6 separate regions of the Homo sapiens genome follow, and regions 1, 2, 3, 4 and 6 are each reported to be linked to region 5. Evidence: microRNA targets listed by miRTarBase, many of them from high-throughput screens and not tested one by one. Region 5 holds a microRNA gene; each other region holds the end of a gene's coding sequence.
What was found. Region 5 holds the annotated microRNA hsa-miR-7977 (UUCCCAGCCAACGCACCA, at 2,288-2,305, shown strand). A microRNA usually pairs through its seed, bases 2 to 8, with sites in the 3' UTR of a target mRNA and lowers its output. Matches are read on the target gene's strand: a 7mer-m8 pairs with bases 2 to 8, a 7mer-A1 pairs with bases 2 to 7 and ends in A, and an 8mer does both.

Region 1 (4,208 bases), not on the chromosome of region 5:
CAAAAGTCTCGGCCATACCTGATTTATGCTTACATTAGGCTTTGGATTTTAGACTTTAGAGTTGATACTTAAACAAGTTAAGACTTTTAGTGTGGTTGGGATGGAAGAGAATATATCTACATGTGACAAGAACACAGATTTTGGCAGGCCACGGACAGTATGTTACAGATTGAACGCATGTGCCCCCCACTTCAAAATTCCCACTTTGAAGCCCTAACCCCTAGTGTGGCTGTATTTGGAGTAAGACAGTAATTAAGATTAAATTAAGTAATAAGGGTGGGGCCCTGATCTGACAAGACTAGTGTCCTTAGAAGAAGAGACACCAGATAGCACTCATGCTCTTCTCCCACCCACAACCCACTTTGTGTGTACACATTGAACAAAGGCCATGTGAGGACAAAGCAAGAAGGCAGCTGTCTACAAGCCAGGAAGAGAGCCCTCACCAGAAACTGACCCTGTTGGACCTTGATCTGAGACTTCTAGCTTATAGAACTGTGAGAAAAATTTCTGTAGGTTATGGTACTTTGTTATGGCAGCCTGAAAAGACTAATACACTGACAAAAATTAGGAAGTATTGAGGTAATGTGTTGTTAAGCTAATTCCTCACTTTTAATAGTAGAGTAGAATAAAATAACGTCTAAAATATACTGGCTAGTGTTATGATGGTAACAACTAGAAAAACTAAAATTAATTATTAGAAGAAATTGGAGGGGGGTGTCTATGATAAAATTTTACTTTTTAACCCTTAGTTTTTCTAAAGCTATGTATATTAGTTTCATCAACCATTTCAAAAGTTTAACTTAATTTTCAAAGAAAACTTAAAATATCATGCCTTCATTCCTTAAATTTCATTGTTTTATTTTTATGATTTTTGCTATATTAATCCTTGCCAATTTTAAACCAACATTTTTAACCTAAATCAATTTATTTTACATTATTTTCAACTTAAGCTGCTTATACTTACATTTTCCAATACATTAAAATATATAATTATTACAAATGTTCACCCATGTAATACCTAAAATTATCTCACGTTCCAGGAGTGGTAGACGGCTTACACTTTGAAAAACATGACTAGATGCAAAATTTGAGTATTCGTCTTGATGGCTTAAAAACATATTAAACATAGGCTGGATACGGTGGCTCATGCCTGTAATCCCAGCACTTTGGGAGCCTGAGACGGGTGGATCACGGGGTCAAGAGACTGAGACCATCCTGGCCAACATGGTGAGACCCTGTCTCTACTAAAAATATAAAAATTAGCTGGGCGTGGTGGTGCGCACCTGTAGTCCTAGCTACTCAGGAGGCTGGGGCAGGAGAATCACTTGAACCGGAGGCAGAGGTTGCAGTGAGCTGAGATCATGCCACTGTACTCCAGCCTGGCAACAGAGTGAGACTCCATCTAAAAAAAAAGAAAAAAAAAAGAAAAATCACATTAAACATATATGAGAAAATGAATTCCTGTCTTTTAAAAAATAATTGTCTCCACAAGTTACACGTACACTGATAGGATTTTAAGGACACCTGAGTATTTGGATTTCCCTTTTTAGAATGATTACATTAAATATAACCTGAAAATATTCCACATAGCCAAAAGTTAAAAATTTAAAACTTTTAGTGCTGTTAAAACTAAATGCTGTTTTAAAAAAATCCAGAAACTGAACTTCGTTACATAAAATGGGCTTAGCTAAATAAAACAATATAAATGCCTTTTTTAAAAAAGCATGGGCCAGGTGCAGTGGCTCATGGCTGTAATCCCAGCGCTTTGGGAGGCCAAGGTGGGCAGATCACTTGAGGTTAGGAGTTCAAGACTGGCCTGGCTAACATGGTGAAACCTCTTCTCTACTAAAAATACAAAAATTAGCCAGGCATGGTGGTGGGCACCTGTAATCCCAGCTACTCGGGAGGCTGTGGCAGGAGAATCACATGAACCCAGGAGGTAGAGGTTGCAGTGAGCCAAGATCGCACCACTGCACCCAGCCTGGGTGACACAGCAAGACTCTATGTCAAAAAAAAAAAAAAATCACGGTTAAGTTGTCCAATGCATCAATTTATTCAACTAATGTTTAACCAGTACCTACAGGCAATCTACTCTGCTAATTACTGGAAATGCAAAGACAGATACAATGTCTCTAAAATTTGGAATGTGTCTGTGTAAGAATTTAAAGCATAAAGAAATGCCCCTCAATATAATGATATAACTTGTTGAATTAAAATAGTTCAGCTGTCAGTTATTGAAAACTAGTAAAAAGACTTAACTTTCACCACAATCTTTAGTAAAACTTAGAATGAGACTTACTTCTACTTATAGTCTTGGTTTAAAAAGCATAGCACACTACATCAAGTAGGCCCTAGGCATTCATATTTGTTTGCAGAATAAATATGCTATGGTCCATTTCTCAGCAGTCTAACTCTGTAAGGCAGTTCTTATATTTTAAGTGTCTAAAACACGTGTCTTCTTGATACAGGAGGAAATACTGAATTATTCATAACACAGATGAAAGTATTTTTCATCTACTTATATCCACCCTTCTTAAAAAGCATGCCTTCAACCCCCATTTGCATAGCTCCTCTGCTAACTTTTAGCCATTCCCTCTTATGAATGTACTGCCCTCTTTGTCTGAAGGCATCTGTCTCCATCAACATTTCATTTCTTACAGGAGCAGGGGCAGTGAGCTCTCCAGTTCATTCAGCCTTAAGTAGAGGAAGGGGCCCCTCACAGCTCCTAAGTTAGCCTTCTGGTACTCTTAGCAGAGTCTGGTACTCTTAGCAGAGTCTGCTACCCCAGGGCTGCAGAGTCTACCTGGGTTAGGTGCTAGTTGTTTACCAGGGTTCAGCATCAGTCTGAACTGAGCTTCTATACAGCAAGTGGCCACTAAGTGCCTTAGTGGTTTCTGGTTACACCTGGGGAACAGGGTCCTTAATATCCTAAAAGAATATTTTTATACTGATAGTTATTTTATCCACGTAAAATAAATCACTCATTTAATTAAATAGTTTTATAAAAGAAAAATTATTTATAAAAGAAAAACTATTATAAATAAATAATGAAATTCATAATGAAATTGAATATTTATTTGAATTTCTCCTGGTAATAGCACTCAACAAATAAGAAAAACCGAGCTGTGAGATTTTGTTTTAAATGTAGCCATATTTCAAAAGGTAAAAAGTTGGCTTCTATATTTAATGGCAAGTGGGACATCTTCTATTTTAAAATTAACATTCAAAAAGTAGTAAAATATACACTATCATGAACACGATGTGTTTTATAGAATGGATTCATGTCCGAATACTAATCTGAATGTGGAAGAAATGTATTATCTGTTAAAAACCACACTGGAAAAATGTTCTTTTTTATAAAAAGTAGCTTGAAGTAAAAAGGAACTTGCTAATAAAGCCAGTAAACTTTCACACGTGGGATTTTTAAAAAATCTCCACCCATCCCACCTCTGAAAAAAAAAGAAGGAGAAGAATAAAAGAAAGAAAAAGAAAAAACCCATATGGTCAATCTGAGTAGAGCCATTCATTACATGACTGCTCATTCTGTACAATGTGGAAGCCTGGTTATTTAGGAAATATTTCGTTTCCTAAAGTGCATCTTTTGAAGATTTGCCTAGTAAAACTGCAATATCATATACAAAACACTTAACACAAGACATGCAATAACAAAGCTAAATCATTCCAGTGTAAAGTTGTTAAAACTACTTTTAAAACTTTTGTTTCACCAAGAAATAAAGATGTAAAATACAGTAGCATTCTTGTTCTCCAACAGTATGCATTGTATGCTTTTGTTATTTGGCAAATCTTTTAGAGTCGAACAAAAATAATAGTCTAAACAACATTTCTTCTGTCATTATAATACGAATCCCGGGCAGAACAGTAAGATGTAGAGGAAGAGTTAGATTTTTGGAAGCTTTGGTGCATTAACCACAGGATTTGCCTCGTGCAAGTATCTCCTCCCTGCACTCTTGTAATCATAGGTACAGCCATGAGTTTCTGCATAACGATGAGATGCACAGAAGTTGTTTCCACATCTAAAGCACAAAAAAAGTTTACGTGAATAGTTGTATTTCTATGAAAGGCTCATCTGTCTGGGAGACAGGAGCTTGACTTCAGGTAGTCCAACAGGGGCCCTTTGGTTCTTTTTAGCAATTTCACTGCTGACATTTCCCTTCCATTCGTAAACAAGCATAAATACCCCCAAAAAG
Region 2 (4,223 bases), not on the chromosome of region 5:
TGGGCAACATAGCGAGACCCTGTCTCTACAAAAATAAAAAATAAATTAGGTGTGGTGGCATGTGCCTGTGGTCCTAGCTTTTCGGGAGGCTGAGGTGGGAGAATGACTTGAGCCTGCGAGGTTAAGGCTGCAGTGAGCCATTCCCACCTCACCCCAGCCTGGGCGATAGAGTGAGACCCTGTCTCAAGAAAATCCCAAAACAAAACCAAAAACATTTAACGTGGAGTGAGTTTATTACTTACAGATTGGCAACAAGGGACAACAGAAGCCTAGGATTCATTATAAGCTTGTCTCCCAAGGAAAACTGCCTGGGGTTGATGACATCTGTGTGTGCCCCACTTGAACCTCAGATGAGTGCCCTGGGTTTTATGACCTGGGGGTTAGAAGGGGAGGTACTACATGACTCCTTGGGCTAAAGCATTGAAGGACGTCCTGTCTTTAGGGAGGGACTGGAACAGAACTTGAGCTGTCCTTGGCCATTCATTTGCTATCCCAGGATGTTACATTCCCAGCACATTCTACAGTTACTCTTGAAAACTACAGGCAAGACAGTGAGACAGAGCTATCCTGCAACTACCCACCAATCTGACCAGATATTTTGTCTTCTTTATGCTTTTAAACTATCATCTTATTTCAGGCTTTGGACTATAATGTAAAATTTTATGAATAGCTGCTATTCAGAAAAATCATTTTGTATTTCTATGTCCCATATTCCTCTTTTTACCTGTTTGTTCACTGAAGTACTGTTATATAACTTCAAGTAAAATTTACTTTTCTGTCTCTTTTTTATCTTTTCTAGTGGACAGTTTCATAAAGCATAACATGAGTAGAAGAATCTACTGCCAATAACTGTTTATTATCTGCAATCAAGTGGGCTTCATCAATTTAATTTCTTCTCTTTGAGTAAATGAAGATTCAGACTTTGTAATATTATTGCCCTTAAGTGCAATGCTAAAAAAACGTTGATTTTCAAGCTTAGAGAATGGCTAGACTTTTCATTAAATACTGATTTTCCTACATTTGCTCTTCTGCAGTTAGTGGGTGATTTGCTATTTTTCTTAGTAGTTAAAAAATGGAACTAAATAGTGAATATACATACACTGCATGTAAACATTCTGCATATACCTCTAAGATTAAAATTCGCAGTTGTCTTTTCATCCTTTATAAAATGATCTAACTACTTATATTTGTGCTGCATCGCGTTACATCTGTTTTTATTTCACTATGAAGATGTTTGATTAAACTTATGGACTTAGTGCCTTTAAACTGATCATCAGGGAGAATCTTGAAAAAATCATTTGAAGGGCTGATGTGAAGGAGCACTGTAAATTTTTATAACTTAGTAATGAGTATTCTTAGGCAGATGTAAAATTTTTTCCAATTTATTTTTATTTATGTAGCTTATAAAATTAACATACCCTGTTTTACTTTATGATAAAGGATTTTTTGTTTGCTGAATTTAAAATTATATATTAGTGATACCATCAGAGGGCAGTGATGTTCTATTGTATATTAAATTCAGCTCTGTAAGGATCTTTGTAGTAATTGAATGAGTTAAACTAATAATCTGGATGGGTTATAATGAGTAGTAATATATTTGTCCATATTTCATAAGTAGTGTTAATCTTGTGTACTTATTAGAGAACGATCATAAGATTTATACAGATGTGAAACTGCGAAGGCAAGTATGAATGTATGAAAAAAACATGTAGGTACTGTACTTACAAAAGGTCTACTTCAGATATAAAAATATTAGGTAATTCTATACAATGCATAGTCATAAACCTTAACATTTTTGTTCATTAGAAACATGAATTTTATAGCATTTTTTGTTTCTCCTATATAATACACTGAAATAAAAGAATTTGTGTTAGCTATTAAGGCTGATAGCTCTTTTAAATGGCAAGGCCACATGTTGAGCCCTAAATTAAAATTTGCAGATATTAAGTGCTAATAGAAATTTTAAGTTAAATCGACCAAGTTCACTTGCTTTACACAAAGGAAACTGAGCCACTATCTTCATCTACCCCTCCAACAAAAATTATGTTATACTGCAGTGTATTGTACATGTTAATTTTTAAAAGTTTGAACTATTATATAATACAGGTCTCTTGACTTCTCATGGAAAAATTATTTTTTCTATTATGGTGTGAAATATTGTGTGAATATCTAGGCAAAACATAACAATTTGGCTCAATTTTCTTCTTTAGAGGATTCGTGCTGTTTTTGTTCATAAAGGGTAGTGAAATCATTGAACTATATTTTAGAATGAAAATTTTTGATTTTATTAAAATGATTTTTTCAAGGCAGAAAGTAAAAGGAATGATTGATAGCGGAGTGCATATAGAGCTAGAGCATATCATCCTTGAACTCTGCAAATCCTTTCTTCCATTTTAATATAGCAAGAACAATTTTGTCTTTACTACATCTTAAAGAATTAGAACTTGGGTTGGTGTAAGTGACTTACTTCCAGGGAATCATGCCCTATTTCTACCAGCAGGTCATACCCAAATGTCACACTATCTATTGTTAACCATGAATGATATTCAGATCTATTACTTTTCGTGAAAAGTGGAACATGTTACTTCCAACCATGGCCTGTCACCGTGAGTGTGATCAGCTTTCTCCAAAACCACATGGGTCGCAGGAGCTAAGGGGTGGTACCCAAATGTTAGGAACAGTGTTAGGAAAGGGCAAGGGAAAAGAAGTGACTGGATGTCTTATGAGAAACCGGTAAATGACTAAAAAAAAAAGCAAATGACTAAAAACATGACTAAAAAATTATATATATATATAATATATATATTATATATGTGTGTATATATATACACATAATATCTGCAAATTCTAATTTATATATGTGTGTGTATATACACACACACACATGCACATACACACATACGTCCAGACATCTCCCTCATAAAATAACCATCAGTTTCTATGAAAACCTTAAGTGGAAGCCAATTTCCCATAGTAAATAATTTAGGAGAAAATTATAATGCTTAAAATGTTGCTCAAACCCCTGACCTATTACTAAACTATAATTGGAACAGTAAAATGCATATATGTAACTATCATATCATGATTTAAAATTGCTTAAACCATTGCTGCTTAATACTAATCAAACTTAACGGCTGCTAACAAAAGTTGTGAATTATTACACGGCCTCTTTGTAACGTGCTGCATGTTTTTTAAAACATCTCTGTGTTTCTGTTTGTTCCACTGCTGGTATTTGGAATGTAATTTAACAGTTCTCACACATGGTTTGGTTATAAATTCTGTATTGCCTTTTAGGGATATAAATATACATTTTTTTCTATGTAAAAATTAGCTTTAGCTGTCTCTTTAACAAAATTTTATCTTTACTACATCCTAAATACTTAGAACCTGAGTTGGTGGTTAGGGAAACCTCAGGAACATTTTAATCACATTGGGATTCAGAAGAGCAACAGAACCAAAGGTTGTTTGGTGTGTTCATACAATCCCTGGATTTATAGGTGGATTTTCTATAAAGGAAAAATGATGTAATTAGTATCCTGTTTTTTCCTAAAGAAATAATACTATCATAAAAATTCTGTCTATCCTTTGTACCCCAGGAAAATGGACATGAACTTTGAATTTTCCCTTTCTCCAAATGTTTGACTTTTTATTTTCACTGATAAGCATTATGCTATGTTCTTAGAAGACAAAAGCAGCTCTTGCCAGTTTTGAATAATTTCTGCATGAATAGACCAGTAAGAGGTAAGTAGCCATGACTGCCTATATGTGTTGAGACATAAGGTATATTTCTTTAACATCTCCAAGCAAGCATTTCAAATTCTCTTAACTACTAAACATGCTCTAAGCTAATTCAAATATAGTATTGTGGCTTTTTTCTTCAATTTTCTCAAAAGCTACAGACACAAGGCATTTGTATGTATAACAGACTTTGATGAAGTTTTGGTTCCAGTAACTCAAAACACTAAGTTTCCCATTTGATATGGCTTTTTATTGTTCTAGTCTCCCTCTTCTAGTTATGCTTCATCTTGCAAATATTGACTTTGAATGTGATAACTATTGCCTACAAATTAAGTATTCATACATTACTCCTGTGGATATCATACTTTTTTGTTATTATATCCTGAATTGCATTGGCTTTTTTTGGTTTTGTTTTGTTTTTTGAGATGGAGTTTCACTCTTGTTGCCCAGGTTGGAGTGCAATGGCACAATCTCAGCTCACCGCA
Region 3 (4,000 bases), not on the chromosome of region 5:
CCTGTATTTCAGTGTCTTAAGATACAGTGATATTCTGACTCTGTTTCTACCTGAGGTATATTTGGATACATACTCCTTAGATCTTCAAGCTGATTACTAGGACCAAACCAAAATTTTTGTTTCATACTTAGTGTTTTGCCTTTTGATTTTATTCATTTAAATATTTTCAGCATTATTCTCACTCTCAGTACATTTCCCCCGACTTGAGCTAGTCAGTGTCTTCAGTCATTTGATTTTTGATTTTTTAAAAAAGTTATTTTCCATTTTCTTGATGTGATAGTTTCTTACACTTTGTGATATTCAATTTGATGACTTTTTATGTCTTATTTCTCAGATTATACACTAAGCCTAACTTCTGGTTCCTAGGTAAGTCAGTAATGTTGTATGCAGCAGAAATGATACCTAAACTAAAAACAAGGACACAAAAAACAGGAGGTGCTGACCAAAGTCTTCAACAAGGAGAGGGAAGTAAAAAAGGGAAAGGAAAGAAAAAGAAGTAACCTAGTATCAGCATCAAGTATGTGGTACTACTGTAAGAGACATGAATGGAGACTTCTAATTTGTATCGGAGGGAAACAGAAGCTTTTTGTTTGCATCATTTAACTGAACTGTGAACCCTTGTGCCTCTCATCTTTATCATCGGAGTTGACAGTGAAACAAATTTACATCAGAAGTTTGCATCTCGCGTATATGCCGTATAAAAGAATTTTTTTGTCTTTCAATGCAGTTTTTTGGAAGAAAATATTTTTAAATGGACAATGGACTGTACAATAAGTTACTTGAAATAAGTTGTTTCAGATAAATTTCAATTAGATTTAAAATAAACATTTTGTCCACCTTTTAAGTTAATGAAATAAAATTTGAAACTGACTTTTGCAGCTTTTGCTTATATACTAATGCTAGGAGAGGAGGGATAATTAAGAATAAAATATGTAGTGAAAGTTTCCATAGTGTGAGGCTAAAACTAGAAGAAACTGTGGTAGGTCCTTTTGTGGGTGGGGGACAGGGGAGTCTGTAAAAAGCCAGTCTGTAGATGATATTTTAATATATTATTGTAATCGAATCGTTCAGTTGTTTTTTGACATGGAAAGTCCTGGATTTTAAGCTTTAAATTTGCTTATTTTGTAGGTTTAAGAACATGATTTTCATGGGAGTTGTAAAATTAACTGTGCTTTAGCACCTTGAGGTACACTTTCCTTCAACAAATGAAATTGGATTGGTGCTCCAGAATTTCAGAGCGGTTTCTGAAAGTAGTGATTTTGAGCTATCCCAATTCCTGTTCTTCCTGAGGCCTGGTTTAGCTCTTCCTTGAATTCTGCAAGCTATCTCATATTTTCAGTAAATTCCATTTTTTTTAAGTTTGTTTGTTTGTTTGTTTTTGAGATGGAGTTTCACTCTTGTTGCCTAGGCTGGAGTGCAATGGCACGATATCGGCGTACCACAACCTCTGCATCCCAGGTTCAAGAGATTCTCCTGCCTCAGCCTCCCTAGGAGCTGGGATTACAGGCATGTGCCACCACACCCGGCTAATTTTGTATTTTTAGTAGAGACAGGGTTTTTCCATGTTGGTCAGGCTGGTCTCGAACTCCCGACCTCAGGTGATCTGCCCACCTCAGCCTCCCAAAGTGCTGGGATTACAGGCATGAGCCACCGTGCCCGGCCTTCTTTACATTTTTATTGCTCACAGTCAAACATTCCTATTGATTGTAAAATAAGCAAACCTAGAGTTGTGGAGATTTATATGTATTTATTTATTTGAATTGAGACAGGGTCTTAAACTCCCAGGCTCAAGTGATCCTCCTGCCTCAACCTCCCAAAGTGCTGGGATTACAGGCATGAGCTAGCTGGCCTGTTGACTTTTTTTTTTTAACTCTAACAATTTCTGTTTTATAGTGAACATAATAGTATAAGACTTAGTTTATATATTTGACTTACAAATAAATCCTGGGGAGAGGGGAGTATGTGTAAAACATAATTCAGAGCAGCCTTCTTTGAGAAAGTGGGTGTGTTTGGCTGTGTAACAAAACAATAAGGGGATGTGTTTGCTGTGTAACAAAACAATGAAGGATTTAAGCAGGATATTTTTGCCTCATATGTTAAATCCAAGTGAGGTTGCTGTGGTGGTTGGTTTAGCTCTCAGTGATGCCTTTTTTGTATTTTTCCGCTCTGCTGTCCATGACATATTTCTAACACCTTTATGATTATTGTTCCTGCTTGTAAAAGGGCTGATATTTACATGAGTGCAAGGCAGGAAGAAAAGGTAGCTGTGCCAGCCACTTCTGGCAAGCAGTTCTCCCACCTTAGCCTCCCAAGTAGCTGAGACCATAGGCATGAGATTTCTCAAAATTCCTCCCAGCAGGCTTTCACTTAGTTTCATTGTTGAGAACTGTGACAGGTCCATCTCTAGCTGCAAAGGAGGCTGAGAAAGTGAACACAGCAGTCCTCCTTATCCTTGGGGAATACATTCCAAGAGTGGATCCCTGAAACAGCAGATAGTACTGAACCCTATATATACTATGTTTTTGCCTATGTATATATACTTGATATGGTTTGGCTGCTACCCAACCCAAAATCTCATCTTGAATTATAATCCCCAAATCCCTATGTGTTAAGGGTGGGACCAGGTGGAGATAATTGGATCATGGGGGCAATTTCCCCTGTGCTGTTCTTGAGATAATGAGTGACTCTCAGGAGATCTGTTGGTTTTATAAGTGCCTGGCGTTTCCCCTGCTTGCAGTCACTCCATCTTGCTGCCCTGTGAAGGTGCCTGCTTCTCCTTGCCTTCTGCCATGATTGTAAGTTTCCTGAGGCCTTCCCAGCAATGCGGAACTGTGAGTCAGTTAAACCTGTTTCCTTTATAATTAATCAGTTTTGGATATTTCTTCATAGCAGTGTGAGAATGGATTAATACATACCTATGATAAAGTTTATAAATTGGACACAGTAACAGATTAACAATAAAATAGAACAATTATAATAATATACTATAATAAAATGTATGTGGAAATTGTCAGTCTCTCTCAAAATATTGTGCTATACTCACCTGTTTTGGGACCAAGGTAACTGAAACCACAGAAGTGAAACCACAGATGAGGGATGACTGCATAGCTTTTTCAGTCCTGACAGCCAAGGCAGCTAAGGAAGAAAGTAGTTGAGAATGCATACTGGGTCAGGTACAGTGGCTCACACCTATAATCGCGGCACATTGGGAGGCTGAGGCAGGAGGATCACTGAAGTCCAGGAAGTCGGGACCAACCTGGGCAACATAGTGAGACTGTCTCTACAAAAAAAAGAATTAGCTGGGCATGGTGGCACATGCCTATAGTCTTAGCTACTTGGGAGGCTGAGGTGGGAGGACTGCTTGAGCCCTGGAGGTGAGGCTGCAGTGAGCCGTGATCATGCTATTCCACTCACCTCAGCAGAGCTGGACCCTGTCTCAAAAAAAAAAACGTACTGTGGTAGCCAACTGAAAAGATTTGTCACAGAAAGATGGTTGAAATCTGGAAATGGTTTACTTTTGGGGCAATAAGGATTGTCAGTGCCATATTTTGGATGTCCCCTCCAAAATGCATGTTGAAATTTAATTGCCATTGTGATGTTATTGAGAGGTGGAACCTTTGGGAGGTGATTGGGCCATGGGGGCTGTGCCCTCAGGAATGGATTAATGTTACTATCTGAGGAGTGGGTTTGTTATAAAATGGAGTTCAGCCAAATTTTTCTTTTGCTCTCCTCAGCGCACCCTCTTTGTCCTCTCACCTTCCACCATGGGATCACACAGCATCAAAGACCCTTGCCATATACAGGTGCCATGCTTTTGGATTTCCCAGCTCCTAATCATGAGCCAAATACACATTGCCCAGGCTGGTGTGCAGCGGTGCGATCTCAGCTCACTGCAATATCTGCCGCCTGGTTTCAAGTGATTCTCCTGCCTCAGCCTCCCGAGTAGCTGGGATTACAAGTGCCTGCCACTGTACCCAGCTAATTTATGTAGTTTTTAGTA
Region 4 (4,207 bases), not on the chromosome of region 5:
ACAAAAAATTAGCCAGGCATGGTGGTGTGTTCCTGTAATCCCACCTACTTGGAAGGCTGAGGCAGGAGGATCACTTGAGCCCGGGAGTTGGAGGCTGCAGTGAGCTATGATCGCACCACTGCACTCCAGCCTGGGTTACAGAGCAAGACGCCCGCCTCTTAAAAATAAGTAAATAAACTGGCCGGGCACGGTGGCTCACGCCTGTAATCCCAGCACTTTGGGAGGCCGAGGCGGGCAGATCATGAGGTCAGCAGTTCGAGACCAGCCTGGCCAACATGGTGAAACCCTGTCTCTACTATAAATACAAAAATTAGTCAGCCGGGTGCGGTGGCTCATGCCTGTAATCACAGCACTTTGGGAGGCCGAGGCAGACAGATCACCTGAGGTCAGGAGTTTGAGACCAGCCTGGCCAACATGGTGAAACCCTGTCTCTACTTAAAATACGAAAAACTAGCTGGGCGTGGTGGTATGTGCCTGTAATCCCAGCTACTCGGGAGGCTGAGGCAGGAGAATTGCATGAACCTGGGAAGCGGAGGTTGCAGTGAGCCGAGATCGTGCCATTGCACTCCAGACTGGGGGACAAGAGCAAGACTTTGTCTCAAAAAAAAAAAAAGAAAATTAGCCAGGTATGGTGGCGGGTGCCTGTAATCCCACCTACTCCAGAGGCTGAGGCAGGAGAATCACTTGAACCCAGGAGGCAGAGGTTGCAGTGAACCAAGACCATGCCACTGCACCACAGCCTGGGCGACAGAGTGAGACTCTGTCTCAAAAATAAATAAATAACTTAAAAAAAGAGGCCAGGGCTGGGCGCGGTGGCTCACAGCTGTAATCCCAGCACTTTGGGAGGCTGAGGTGGGCGGATCACTTGAGGTCAGGAGTTCAAGACCAGCCTGGCCAACATTTTGAAACCCCATCTCTACTAAAAAAAATAAATAGCTGGGCATGGTGGTGCATGCCTGTAATCCCAGCTACTCAGGAGGCCAAGGCAGGAGAATCACTTGAACCCTGGAGGCAGAGGTTGCAGTGAGCCTAGATCACACCACTGTACTTCAGCCTGGGTGGCAGGGTGGCAGAGCCAGACTCCGTCTCAAAAAAAAAAAAAAAAAAAAGTTGCCTTTGGAGTCTGAAACCAATCTGTAGGTTACAGGCATCCCAGCATCTTGATTCAGGCCACCACTGATGTAACATCATCAGTTTTATGAGAAATCATGGTGACATCTGGCTGCCAAAATCCTGGTGGCTCACTGCAATCCAGAATTATTTAAATAGGCAGAGAAATACTTTCATGTCTATGAGTGTTACAAGCAGCATTTTTTTTTCTGTGTAGAGAACTATAAAATATAACCACTATTACTGAAGTGCTGTTTTGGCATCTCATTTGTAAATGTTTAGTAAGAATTTCTTGGGAGGCCAATGCGGGAGGATCACTTGAGGCCAGGAGTTCAAGACCAGCCTGGGCAATGTAATGAGACCTTATCTCTAGAAAAAATGCAAAAACGCAGCCAGGCATGGTGGCATATGCCCATGGTCCCAGCTACTTGGCAGGCTGAGGTAGCATGATAGCTTGATCCCAGGATTTTTTTTTGAGACGGAGTCTCCCTCTGTCGCCCAAGCTGGAGTGCAGTGGTACAATCTCGGCTCACTACAGCCTCCATCTCCCGGGTTCAAGTGATTCTCCTGCCTCAACCTCCCGAGTATCTGGGATTACAGGCACGCGCCACCACACCCGGTTAATTTTTGTGTTTTTAGTAGAGACGGAGTTTCACCATGTTGGTCAGGCTGGTCTTGAACTCCTGGCCTCAGGTGATCCACCTGCCTTGGCCTCCCAAAGTGCTGAGATTATAGGTGTGAGCCACTGGCCCAGCCAAGACCAGGATTTTGAGGCTGCAGTGAGTTGTGATCACACCATTGCACTCCAGCCTGGGCAACAGTGAGACTTTGTCTCTTTAAAAAAAAAAGAAAGAAAGAAAGAAAACAGAATTTCAGCAATAACTTCCCCCAGAATTGGAAGTGGCCCTGGCCCTCCAGACCCGGAGTGTGTTCCCTTCACACCTCTGGGCCTCTGTTTGTTGTTGTTGTTGTTGTTGTTGTTGTTGTTGTTGTTTTCTTTGAGACTGAGTCTCACTCTGTCTCCCAGGCTGGAGTGCAGTGGTGCAATCTCCACTCACTGCAACCTCCGCCTCCCGGGTTCAGTAGCTGGGATTACAGGCACCCGCCACCAAGCCCGGCTAATTTTAGTATTTTTAGTAGAGACGGGGTTTCACCATGTTGGCCAGGGTGGTCTCGAACTCCTGACCTCAGGTGATCCACCCGCATCCCAAAGTGCTGGGATTACAGGCGTGAGACACCGCGCCCGGCCTGGGCCTCACTTTCCACAGCTGTAAAATGAGGACAAAGCCTGTGTCTACAGGGAAACTCGAAGATTAGATGCAATCGCTGTAGAGAGTGCTTGGCCTACACTCCCTAGATTCTACCTGGCCCAGCAGGACCCTACCAGGAGGCACAAATAACACAGAGGGCCTCCCTCTTGCCCCCAGGCCAGGAAATCATCCGGTTTATTCTTGAGCACAGACAGGCCCCAGCCTGCCTTTCCTTTGTACAAACAACCCCCCTCCTTGTTCATCCAGAGGAGAAAATGGGCCCATTGTTACTGCACTGAGGGGTCACTGTTGCCAGGCAGGCAGGCGGGCGCCATCCTGAAGGCCGTGGGTGGCCTCCGACCTTTCTGGTCTGAAACAGGCTGTGCCCCTCGCCGGTTCCTGGTGTGACAGTTCCTGAGTGAGGAGGTAGGGGAATGGCTGCCGACCAGGCCAGGGTGACAGGCTGGCCCAGAAAGGCACAGGAGTTTTCTCCTTTCCCTGGTTTGACAACAAGCAAAGCACCCTGAATGTCCTGGGCTAAGAAGGACAGCGCAGAAACAAGGAGTTCAAAAATATATTCTTTAGGGCGTATAAAAAGGAGACAGTTGCATGCTACAAAAGCTAGGCTAGGGCCGGGCGCGGTGGCTTACACCTATAACTGCAGCACTTTCGAAGGCCGAGGCGGGTGGATCACCTAAGGTCAGGAGTTTGAGACCAGCCTGGTCAACATGGTGAAACCCCCTCCCCTCCCCGGTCTCTACCAAAAATATAAAATATCCGGGTGTGGTGGTGGGCGCCTGTAATCCCAGCTACTCTGAAGGATGAGACAGGAGAATCGCTTGAACCTGGGAGGCGGAGGTTGCAGTTAGCCAAAATCGCACCACTGCACCCCAGCCAGGGCGACAGAGTGGGACTCTGTCTTAAAAAAAAAAAAACAAAAAACAGAAACTCACACCCTGGCTAAAGAGGGTGCCCTGAACTCCAGGCAAGCTTGGCCAAGTCTTGCCAGAAATCCAGATCTTTGTGTTTGCATTGCCAGGTTTTTAGCAAGGGTGACTGATTCAAAGCTTAAAAACAAACAAGAACACTTCTGTCTGGGTTAAACGTCTGCACCTGGCCTGTGGGCCTATTTGAAAACTTTTTGACTGTTCAGCCTGTTCTGATGCTTAGACAGGACTTTGGCTCTGCCGTAGGGTCCCCCTGCAGGGTGCTGGTGACTCCCAAGGACACTGACAGCAGTGGCTTTCTGTCTCCATTCTGTAATCTGCATTCCGGGCTCACACTGTGGTCCCAAACACTGCAGGCTGGAGGTGGTCCCTGTCCGCCTCTTCCCCAGTGCTGTTGTCAAGGGGTGGACCAGGCCCACCGGGGGGTGGGTGGCCGGGGTCACTGGCCGGCAGGGGCCCCAGGCGCTCAGCCTCAGCCAGGGCATCCAGCAGCCCAGCCAGGGGTGGCCGGCGGCGGCAGATGTCCTGCAGCAGCTCAGCCCGGGGCTGCAACTGCCTAATGAGCTCGTCCCTCTGGTGCACGGTGGCCTGCAGGCTGTGGACAGTGGCTTCTGAGGTCATCAGCTGCTCCTGGAGTGTGGCAATCTCACTGGCAGGAAGGCAAGAGGAGGTGATTACAGAACTGAGGACCACAGCACCTGCTCCTCCCTGCTCTGGACCCGCAAGAGGTTCCCCATCACCTTTGGGATAAAGCCCGCATTCCTCACCACTGCCTCAGGGTCCTCCCTGGTTATGAACAGAATGTTTCTTTGTTTTTATTATTATTATTATATTTTATTTTATTATTATTTTTTTTTGAGACGAAGTCTAGCTCTGTCGCCCAGGCTGGAGTGCAATGGT
Region 5 (4,223 bases):
TTTATCTGCTGAGTTATTGAGGTTCCAATCAGGGTTGTCTACTTGAACTGCTTCTCTTCCTAGTGGGAATGGAGTTTCCATTACTTCTTCACCTTCCCTATCTCCTTTTTTTCTCTTTGGTCTGCCATAGGAGATGTTGTTCATCTTCATATTTTTCTGCTGCCTGCAGAACTGCTTGCTTTTCAGCTTCAGTGAGGCCTGACTTAGGAGCAACATAACATCCCTCCATGTGAGGTCAAACACCTGAGTTAAATTTTGGAAAATTTCTATATATTTATTGGGGTCATCAGAAAATCTGCTTAAGTCTCCCTTTAATTGCTTAAGGTCCTGTAATGAGAAGGGAACGTGAACCCTCATGGCACGATTTTCATCAGGCACTTCCTGCAGAGATAAGAATGAAGTGGGGAAAGTGGGTAATACTGGAGATGGTGGACCTGGAGGACCTGATGGTATGATTGGAGGGGCTTCTGGATGAGGGGAACTGAGTTGAGACATTCAATAGCTGTCTCAGATTGCTCCTCTGGAATCTGCTTTAGCTCTGGGGGACTATTCCTTGTGGGCTTGCCTGTCATGCTGCTAAAAGAACTGGGTCAATTGTACAAAGCTTGTAAAGGTCTGGGTCGTCTCGCAGGGCAAAGAAAGCCTGTACATTGGGTATCTCAGACCATTTGTCCTTCCATCTGCAGAAAATATCTAATTGTTGGACAGTATTAAAATGAAGGCTCCCCCCAGCAGGCCAGGTTTGTCTGTCTTAAAGATGGTAAGAAGGCCATGCCCTTATGCCATAGAATATGAGGTGCTCTTTCTACAAAGTCTCAGGGTTGAAGCAGTCCCAGTGCTTTAGAATATACTCCAGGGGAGTACATGCTGAACATGATCTGTTACCCATCTAGAAAGAGAAGTGAGAAAAAGGTGTCTCTTTTGTCTCCTTCCTCTCTCTGTATAACCCAGAGTGGAGAAGAAGACAGTGGGAGCGTCCCCCCAACTGTTTTCCTTCCTTGGTTCCTGGGTCCCAGCACCCTGTTAAATGTGCTGCCCATGGTTGTATGTGTGACCCTCCAAGCCATGGCACCAAAGAAACCAAGCAACTGGGGCTAGTCATGCTCATTCAAGTAGCTCTAGTCCTCTGCCTGTGATTTCCCTTTGACTTCCTAGACTTGTGTGACCTGTGTGCCTCCCTTAAAAAAAATTGACCTTGGGAAAGATTATATAAAAGGCAAGTGTCCTTTAATGGAGGGAATGTGCTAGATTGCCTGCTACTATGGCCCGTGTTAAAGCCTTAACCCTTAGAAAAATGGTTCTGGTTAACTTTCAGACTTAAAATCCCCTTACTAATTAAGGACTGTCTTATTGGAGACAGAATAGTTTCCTTAAAGGGATGTGGGGGCCTAATCGTGACTTTCCTGTTGATGGGACAGGATCAGGACTCAAATTTGGCTGCAGAGGACAATTTACTCCTAATTGTTGAAGGCAGAATTTTCCTGTTCACAGAAGCAGCATAAAGCCTGGTTTCCAGTAGGAAGGGGCAAAAAGGAAAAATTAGGAAGCTGCGGTGGACTGTAGCGGACAAGCAATGCGTCTTATGAAGAGGGTGTCTATTTCCACTAGGTGGCGCTGTTGGCTTAGGAATACTATGTGCCACCAGCAGCATAGTAGGGACTCATCTCACAACCGGGGTTTCAGAGACCTCTGTTCCTAGAAGATTGCAACAGCATTTTCCTGAGCTATAGCCCCGGTTATTACAGCATTTCCTGATCTTGCCTAACAGGATTACTTCCCTAGGCTGTAAAAATTCCCACACATTCGACACACAAAGAGAATAAGAGGCATAGCGACCGTGGATAGAAACAGAAAAAAAGTTTTGCGACAGGATAACTGGGGATCTTTTACCAACACCTGGGCAGGCTGCTGGAGGCTGAGTCCGGTCCAGAAGCTTTTGAATAACACTAGGAAATGCCCTGGCCAGAAATTCTCAGTTGCTTCAGAACTTTTCCCCGCCTTATGCAATGGCTAATTTTCCCCATGAACAGAAAAGCTGGTTTGAAGCACGGCCAACATTCCCAATGACCCAGGGTATTGGAGGGAGGGGGGTCTTCATGTTCTCCCCAGCAAGGCTGACATGCGAGTCTTTAAGAATGGCAGCCACACTAAGCATATCTAGATGGTTGACAGATGCTGTTATTGATTTGATTTGATTTTAAAATGGAAGCCAAGAGCCTCGGAATGAAAGGACAGGTTTTGAGTTTGCTCTTCTGCTCACCAACCCCAATGGATATTGTACCTTGGTTTCCCAGCCAACGCACCAAAAATGATATGGGTCTGTTGTCTGGAGAAACACCCAAGGTCCTTGTTCTCGCACGGAGAAAATTAGCGACACGGATACACGTGGAGTGGTTTAAGGAGTGGAATGTTTAATAGGCAAGAAAGAAGAAAACAGCTCCCTCATACAGAGGGAGGAGGGCTCCAAATGGAAAACCCCACATGTAGCAGAAAGCAGTCGGTTATATTGGGAGGCTGGACGACGTGGTGTTTGGTTTGCATAGGAGCCAGGGGATTGGTTTGACCAGGTGTGTCATTCACATAGCCTGCAAAAAAGCCAGCTCTCCCACCCTAGCCTTTAAATATGCACATATGGCTACCTGGCTGGTCACCATGATGTTCTGCATACGTGGCAACAAAGAAAAAGTCACGGGAACCACCATATTGGTTGGACCTGGCTTCTAGCCACCAGCATTTGCATATCAATGCTTGCAGGTCTGGTTTTTCAGGCCACTTTCTGTTAGAAAAGAAATGTTTTGGGGCTTGCTTTTTTATTAAAAGAAAAAGCCTTACCAAGGACTCTTTTCCCCTCTCTTGCTGCCTAAAATAATTTCTTAATAACTCCTGTAATACTAGTGATTCTTCGATCAGGAATACAACTTTTCTATAATTTGTGATTTCAAACGTGTCAAGATGGCAGTGACATCATTTTTTCCCATGTGCTTTCTGCTTCTTCGCTTAGAAAATCAGTGGCAGATTTCTCCCAGTAAAGAAGACATATTATTTTAATGTTGCCAAATATTTTATAAATTATTCCCTGACTTATGCTCAAACAGTGACTATAGTTGAAACATCATCCTGCAATGAAGCTCAAAGTATACCAGTCTTACCTATGCGTTCAGAGCTTCAAACAGTTTTTAAAATCTCCGTCTTTAAACGTGAGAAGATAAGCAAGAATTAACAGTTGAAGAAGGCTTCTTTTGTGAAAGAAAAGTACTGGGAAAACAAAACAAAACAAAACAAAAACTGGAGGAGAGAGATAATATAAAAAAGAAAATGTTTAAAGCTTATCGTTGTCTTAAAAGAAGTTTCGTTAATTAAACAAAAAGAGCTTTCTGATTTTAAAATTACTGTAGGCCAGGCATAGCAGTTCGCACCTGTAATCCCAGCAATTTGGGAGGCCTAGGCAGGTGAATTACTTAAGCTCAGGAGTTCAAGACCAACCTGGGCAATATGGCAAAACCCCATCTCTACAAAAAATACAAAAATTAGCCAAGTATGGTGGCACATGTCTGTGGTCTCAGCCACTCAGGAGGCTGAGGTGGGAGGATGGCTTGAGCCTGGCAGACAGAGGTTGCAGTGAGCCTAGATCACATCACTGCACTCCAGCCCAGGGACAGAGCGAAACCCTGTCTCAATAAATAAATAAACAAACAAACAAATAAAATTACTATGGAGCTATAGAAATCAAAATAGTGTGGTACTGACATAAAGATAGGCCTATAAATAAGGTAATGGAACTGAGAGTCCAGAAGTAAAGCCTTCTAATTGTGTCAACTTTTTCTTCAAAAAATTTGCCAGGCCAATTCAATGAGAAAGGACAGTCTTTTCCACAACTAATTTTAGGACTATTGAATATCCAACATGCAGAAAGGATAAATTTAGGCCTTTATCTCAAACTATGCACACAAATTGACTCAATATGGATCAAAGATCTAAATGTAAGAGCTAAAACTGTAAAACTTTTAGAAGAAAATGCAGGAGAAAATCTTTTTGACCTTGGCTAGTCAATAATTTCTTAAATATAACATTGAGACCACAATCCATTAAAATAAATAAACTATAGTCAAATTGGTCATCAAAATTAGAATCTTGGGTACTTCTAAAGAAATAGCTGACAGAATGAAAAGATAATCCACAGACTGGAAGAAAATATTTGCAATATGTTTCTGATAAGGCATTTA
Region 6 (4,223 bases), not on the chromosome of region 5:
CCAGCAGAGGTTCAGAGAGCTCCACTTCACAAAGTGGGCAGGCAACATTTATGGACAGAAAATGGAAATGAGGAGCAGAAAGGGCTTGATTGCTCTCAATGGCTCAATGTCTGTTTTATTTGAATATGGTATAGTCAGCGGACCACCTGTGATTGACCAAAGCTGGCTGCTGTGGTCGACTGAGTCTCAGCTATTGTTACAAAAATATACTCCTAGTTAGGCTTTTAGTTAGTTTAAATACTGTTAGATTGTAGTTCCTTACATAGGGACTCAAAGTAGAGTCCCCCAGGGCAAATTTAGTTTAACACCGGTAACTCTCTTAACAAGAAGGTATTCCATTATGGATATTTCACTTCTGCTAACCTCCCAAACTCCATCACTTGCTAGCTATGAAACTTTGGTCAAATTACTTGAACTCTTTTATCTTTGGTTTCTTCACACAAAAATGAGGATAATAATACCCATATCATAAGGTGTTATAAGAATTTAATTATATGCAGAAAGCTCTCAGCACAGTATCTAACATGTAATAAGTGTTGAATAAACAGTTTTACAATTACTGTTTATTTTTATCATAATTATTTATAGTGGATAGTTTCTAATTAAGTGCTTCCCTCTTTAGAGTAGTCAAAATATTATTTATGGCTGTTTACTATTTATACTTCACAAGCCCTGTTGATGTGTGCTCTTCTTTTGATAGGTACAACATAAGAGGTATGATGCAATTCTTAAGCGTTTGCATTGTCAGGTGAACAAGCTTCAGTCAAATAGACGACAGTGGCAATGGAACATTCAACAATTGGAAAAAACTGCAGCCGAATTAAGAAAATGCATTGGAATGCAAGAGTAACATTGCCATAGGGCAATGTGGAACACAGACCATGACAACAAAAATTACTGGACAGAACATTAAGAAAATCTTTTGGATTCTTAATAACAAGCATCCACTATTAGAGACCTGTCTTAATGACAGATGTCTTCGGTTGTTGTTTTTTTTAAATCAGTCATCGATTTGTTAAAATGCCTTCTAACCCTACACTTGATAGCAGTAGACAGACAATAGGAATGTCTACGGGAAAATAATGCAAGAGTCTCTGTGACTATTTGGAGTGTGTAAAATGTATTATACTCATGAATACCTGTTTATGTTGCATTCACTACCCTATGAAGTAAAAATTTAGAAGGGAAAAAACACTCGAATTTTCACTGATTTAAATTGTTAAGATTTTTAAAATGTTTGTCTGTTTCGAACTTTTTTTTTTTTTTTTTTTTTGAGACGGAGTCTCGCTCTGTCGCCCAGGCCGGACTGCGGACTGCAGTGGCGCAGTCTCGGCTCACTGCAAGCTCCGCTTCCTGGGTTCACGCCATTCTCCTGCCTCAGCCTCCCGAGTAGCTGGGACCACAGGCGCCCGCCACCGCGCCCGGCTAATTTTTTGTATTTTTAGTAGAGACGGGGTTTCACCTTGTTAGCCAGGATGGTCTCGATCTCCTGACCTCATGATCCACCCGCCTCGGCCTCCCAAAGTGCTGGGATTACAGGCGTGAGCCACCGCGCCCGGCCTGTTTCGAACTTTTTATTGGAACTTGTTTTTTTACAGCTGCCTTCACAGTAGCCCATAAATATTGATATTTATAATAATGTTTTTGTATGTTCAATGCTTCAAATATTTTACTCCATTTTCTCTTTTATCCAGAAGGTAACAATCATTTTTCTTTGTTATAAAATAACATATTTTGAGTGATACGATGAATAAAATATTTTGTTCACTTTCTATAAATTATTCGTATTCTGTGACTAAATTAAAGTTATAACATCATGTAACTCTTAAGAGTATTACTCACTATAGACTAACATATTTTTTCTCACTGAAAGGCAAAATGTCAATAAATCAAATGTTAACTTGTCCCTTTCAAGATAAACGTGCTCCTCCTTTTCATGGTTCCATTGAGTCAAATACTTAGAAACAAAAACAAATAGGAAGATATGGTTTTAAAATATTCATTTGTAGGATTAAATAATTTCAAACAGCATCAAAAAATATTTAAAATCCATTTTCTCCTTACCTTTCTATGTGCTAAAATTCAGTAAGTGGAGCTGATATAAAACCTGATATTAATAATCTTATTATGTCTAACAGTAATAGTTTTATTGTGGCTTAGCATGGCTTAATGTGGCTTACACTTCAAACAGCTTATCCTGTAACACAATCAGCTTTGGTCCATGACTCAGAAACAAAGCTACAGTGAAAATGGTGAAACCTACAGATTGTGGGGAGTACACACTATACTCGGCTGGAGATAAGCCAGAACCAAATGCTGATTATATAAGTATATTTTAATGTAACTTGCATATTAAAAAGTTATTATATTTTCTAAGTGTAGTTATCGCTTATAAAAAATTATAGTTTTCTAAAGTGTTTTAAAGTTTATATTGAGATTCAAAATATTTGTAAATGATAACACCTTGAGTTATAGATTCAAAAACTTGTTTTTAAATTCAGATATGAAGAAAATAGCTGTAATCTGCTTAAGATAATGTGCTCTATTTTTAAAAGTAAGTTTTAATGTAGTTTTCTAAAATATCCTTAATACATATACCTATTTTACATTTTATGACAGTCAAAAATTCTTTGAAAAAGAAACTTTTTCTCCTTGTTCTTTCTTTTTTTATTATACTTTAATTTTTAGGGTACATGTGCACAATGTGCAGGTTTGTTACACATGTATACATGTGCCATGTTGGTGTGCTGCACCCATTAACTCATCATTTAGTATTAGGTATATCTCCTAATACTATCCCTCCCCACTCTCCCCACCCCACAACAGGCCCCAGTGTGTGATGTTCCCCTTCCTGTGTCCATGTGTTCTCATTGTTCAATTCCCACCTAGGAGTGAGAACACGCGGTGTTTGGTTTTTTGTCCTTGCAATAGTTTGCTGAGAATGATGGCTTCCAGCTTCATCCATGTCCCTACAAAGGACATGAACTCATCATTTTTTATGGCTGCATAGTATTCCATGGTGTATATGTGCCACATTTTCTTAATCCAGTCTATCATTGTTGGACATTTGGGTTGGTTCCAAGTCTTTGCTATTGTGAATAGTGCCGCAATAAACATACGTGTGCATGTGTCTTTATAGCAGCATGTTTTATAATCCTTTGGGTATATACCCAGTAATGGGATGGCTGGGTCAAATGATATTTCTAGTTCTAGATCCCTGAGGAATCGCCACACTGACTTCCACAATGGTTGAACTAGTTTACAGTCCCACCAACAGTGTAAAAGTGTTCCTATTTCTCCACATCCTCTCCAGCACCTGTTGCTTCCTGACTTTTTAATGATTGCCATTCTAACTGGTGTGAGATGGTATCTCATTGTGGTTTTGATTTGCATTTCTCTGATGGCCAGTGATGATGAGCATTTTTTCATGTATCTTTTGGCTGCATAAATGTCTTCTTTTGAGAAGTGTCTGTTCATATCCTTTGCCCACTTTTCAATGGGGTTGTTTGTTTTTTTCTTATAAATTTGTTGGGGTTCATTGTAGATTCTGGATATTAGCCCTTTGTCAGATGAGTAGATTGCAAAAATTTTCTCCCATTCTGTAGGTTGCCTGTTCACTCTGATGGTGGTTTATTTTGCTGTGCAGAAGCTCTTTAGTTTAATTAGATCCCATTTGTCAATTTTGGCTTTTGTTGCCATTGCTTTTGGTGTTTTAGACATGAAGTCCTTGCCCATGCCTATGTCCTGAATGGTATTGCCCAGGTTTTCTTCTAGGGTTTTTATGGTTTTAGATCTAATGTTTAAGTCTTTAATCCATCTTGAATTAGTTTTTGTATAAGGTGTAAGGATGGGATCCAGTTTCAGCTTTCTACATATGGCTAGGCAGTTTTCCCAGCACCATTTATTAAATAGGGAATCCTTTCCTCATTTCTTGTTTTTGCCAGGTTTGTCAAAGATCAGATAGTTGTAGATATGCGGCATTATTTCTGAGGGCTCTGTTCTGTTCCATTGGTCTATATCTCTGTTCTTTCTTATCTTGGAAACTATTTCAGATAATAGAGAATTTCAGATTAATTAAGAACTAAAATTTGAGGTATCCAAAGCCTGATGATTTAGTGGATATGATATTTCAACACAATCATAAACTCTAATATTAGAAAATTGAAGTTATTTTTAATTTTAGTTCTGTATAATTGAACCTAGCTTAGAATATGAGCTCTTTT

Region 1: miRTarBase lists ZFAND4 as a target of hsa-miR-7977. The part of its 3' UTR that is shown has no 7-base or 8-base seed match.
Region 2: miRTarBase lists SVIP as a target of hsa-miR-7977. The part of its 3' UTR that is shown has no 7-base or 8-base seed match.
Region 3: the mRNA of SRP19 is a reported target of hsa-miR-7977. Seed matches in the 3' UTR shown: 7mer-m8 at 1,494-1,500, 7mer-m8 at 1,628-1,634 and 7mer-m8 at 1,821-1,827.
Region 4: the mRNA of VMAC is a reported target of hsa-miR-7977. Seed matches in the 3' UTR shown: 7mer-m8 at 3,164-3,170.
Region 6: the mRNA of CCDC122 is a reported target of hsa-miR-7977. Seed matches in the 3' UTR shown: 7mer-m8 at 1,393-1,399 and 7mer-m8 at 1,527-1,533.

Annotation. Positions count from the first base shown.
Region 1 is chr10:45,612,538-45,616,745 of GRCh38, forward strand. ZFAND4 (zinc finger AN1-type containing 4) reads right to left here. Exons shown (of 10, transcript NM_174890.4): 10 at 2,963-4,034. The coding sequence ends at 3,899. Among named protein-coding and RNA genes, the nearest start is that of ZFAND4, 58 kb to the right of the region's middle.
Region 2 is chr11:22,819,710-22,823,932 of GRCh38, reverse strand. It overlaps SVIP (small VCP interacting protein), which reads left to right. Exons shown (of 4, transcript NM_148893.3): 4 at 800-4,223. The coding sequence ends at 814. Among named protein-coding and RNA genes, the nearest start is that of LINC02718, 7.6 kb to the left of the region's middle.
Region 3 is chr5:112,867,038-112,871,037 of GRCh38, forward strand. SRP19 (signal recognition particle 19) reads left to right here. Exons shown (of 5, transcript NM_003135.3): 5 at 367-2,751. The coding sequence ends at 500. Among named protein-coding and RNA genes, the nearest start is that of SRP19, 7.8 kb to the left of the region's middle.
Region 4 is chr19:5,908,573-5,912,779 of GRCh38, reverse strand. It overlaps VMAC (vimentin type intermediate filament associated coiled-coil protein), which reads right to left. Exons shown (of 2, transcript NM_001017921.4): 2 at 1,927-3,956. The coding sequence ends at 3,638. Among named protein-coding and RNA genes, the nearest start is that of CAPS, 3.6 kb to the left of the region's middle.
Region 5 is chr3:176,512,816-176,517,038 of GRCh38, forward strand. MIR7977 (microRNA 7977) reads left to right here and starts at 2,288; the gene lies at 2,288-2,336.
Region 6 is chr13:43,833,907-43,838,129 of GRCh38, reverse strand. It overlaps CCDC122 (coiled-coil domain containing 122), which reads left to right. Exons shown (of 7, transcript NM_144974.5): 7 at 701-1,778. The coding sequence ends at 850. Among named protein-coding and RNA genes, the nearest start is that of CCDC122, 44 kb to the left of the region's middle.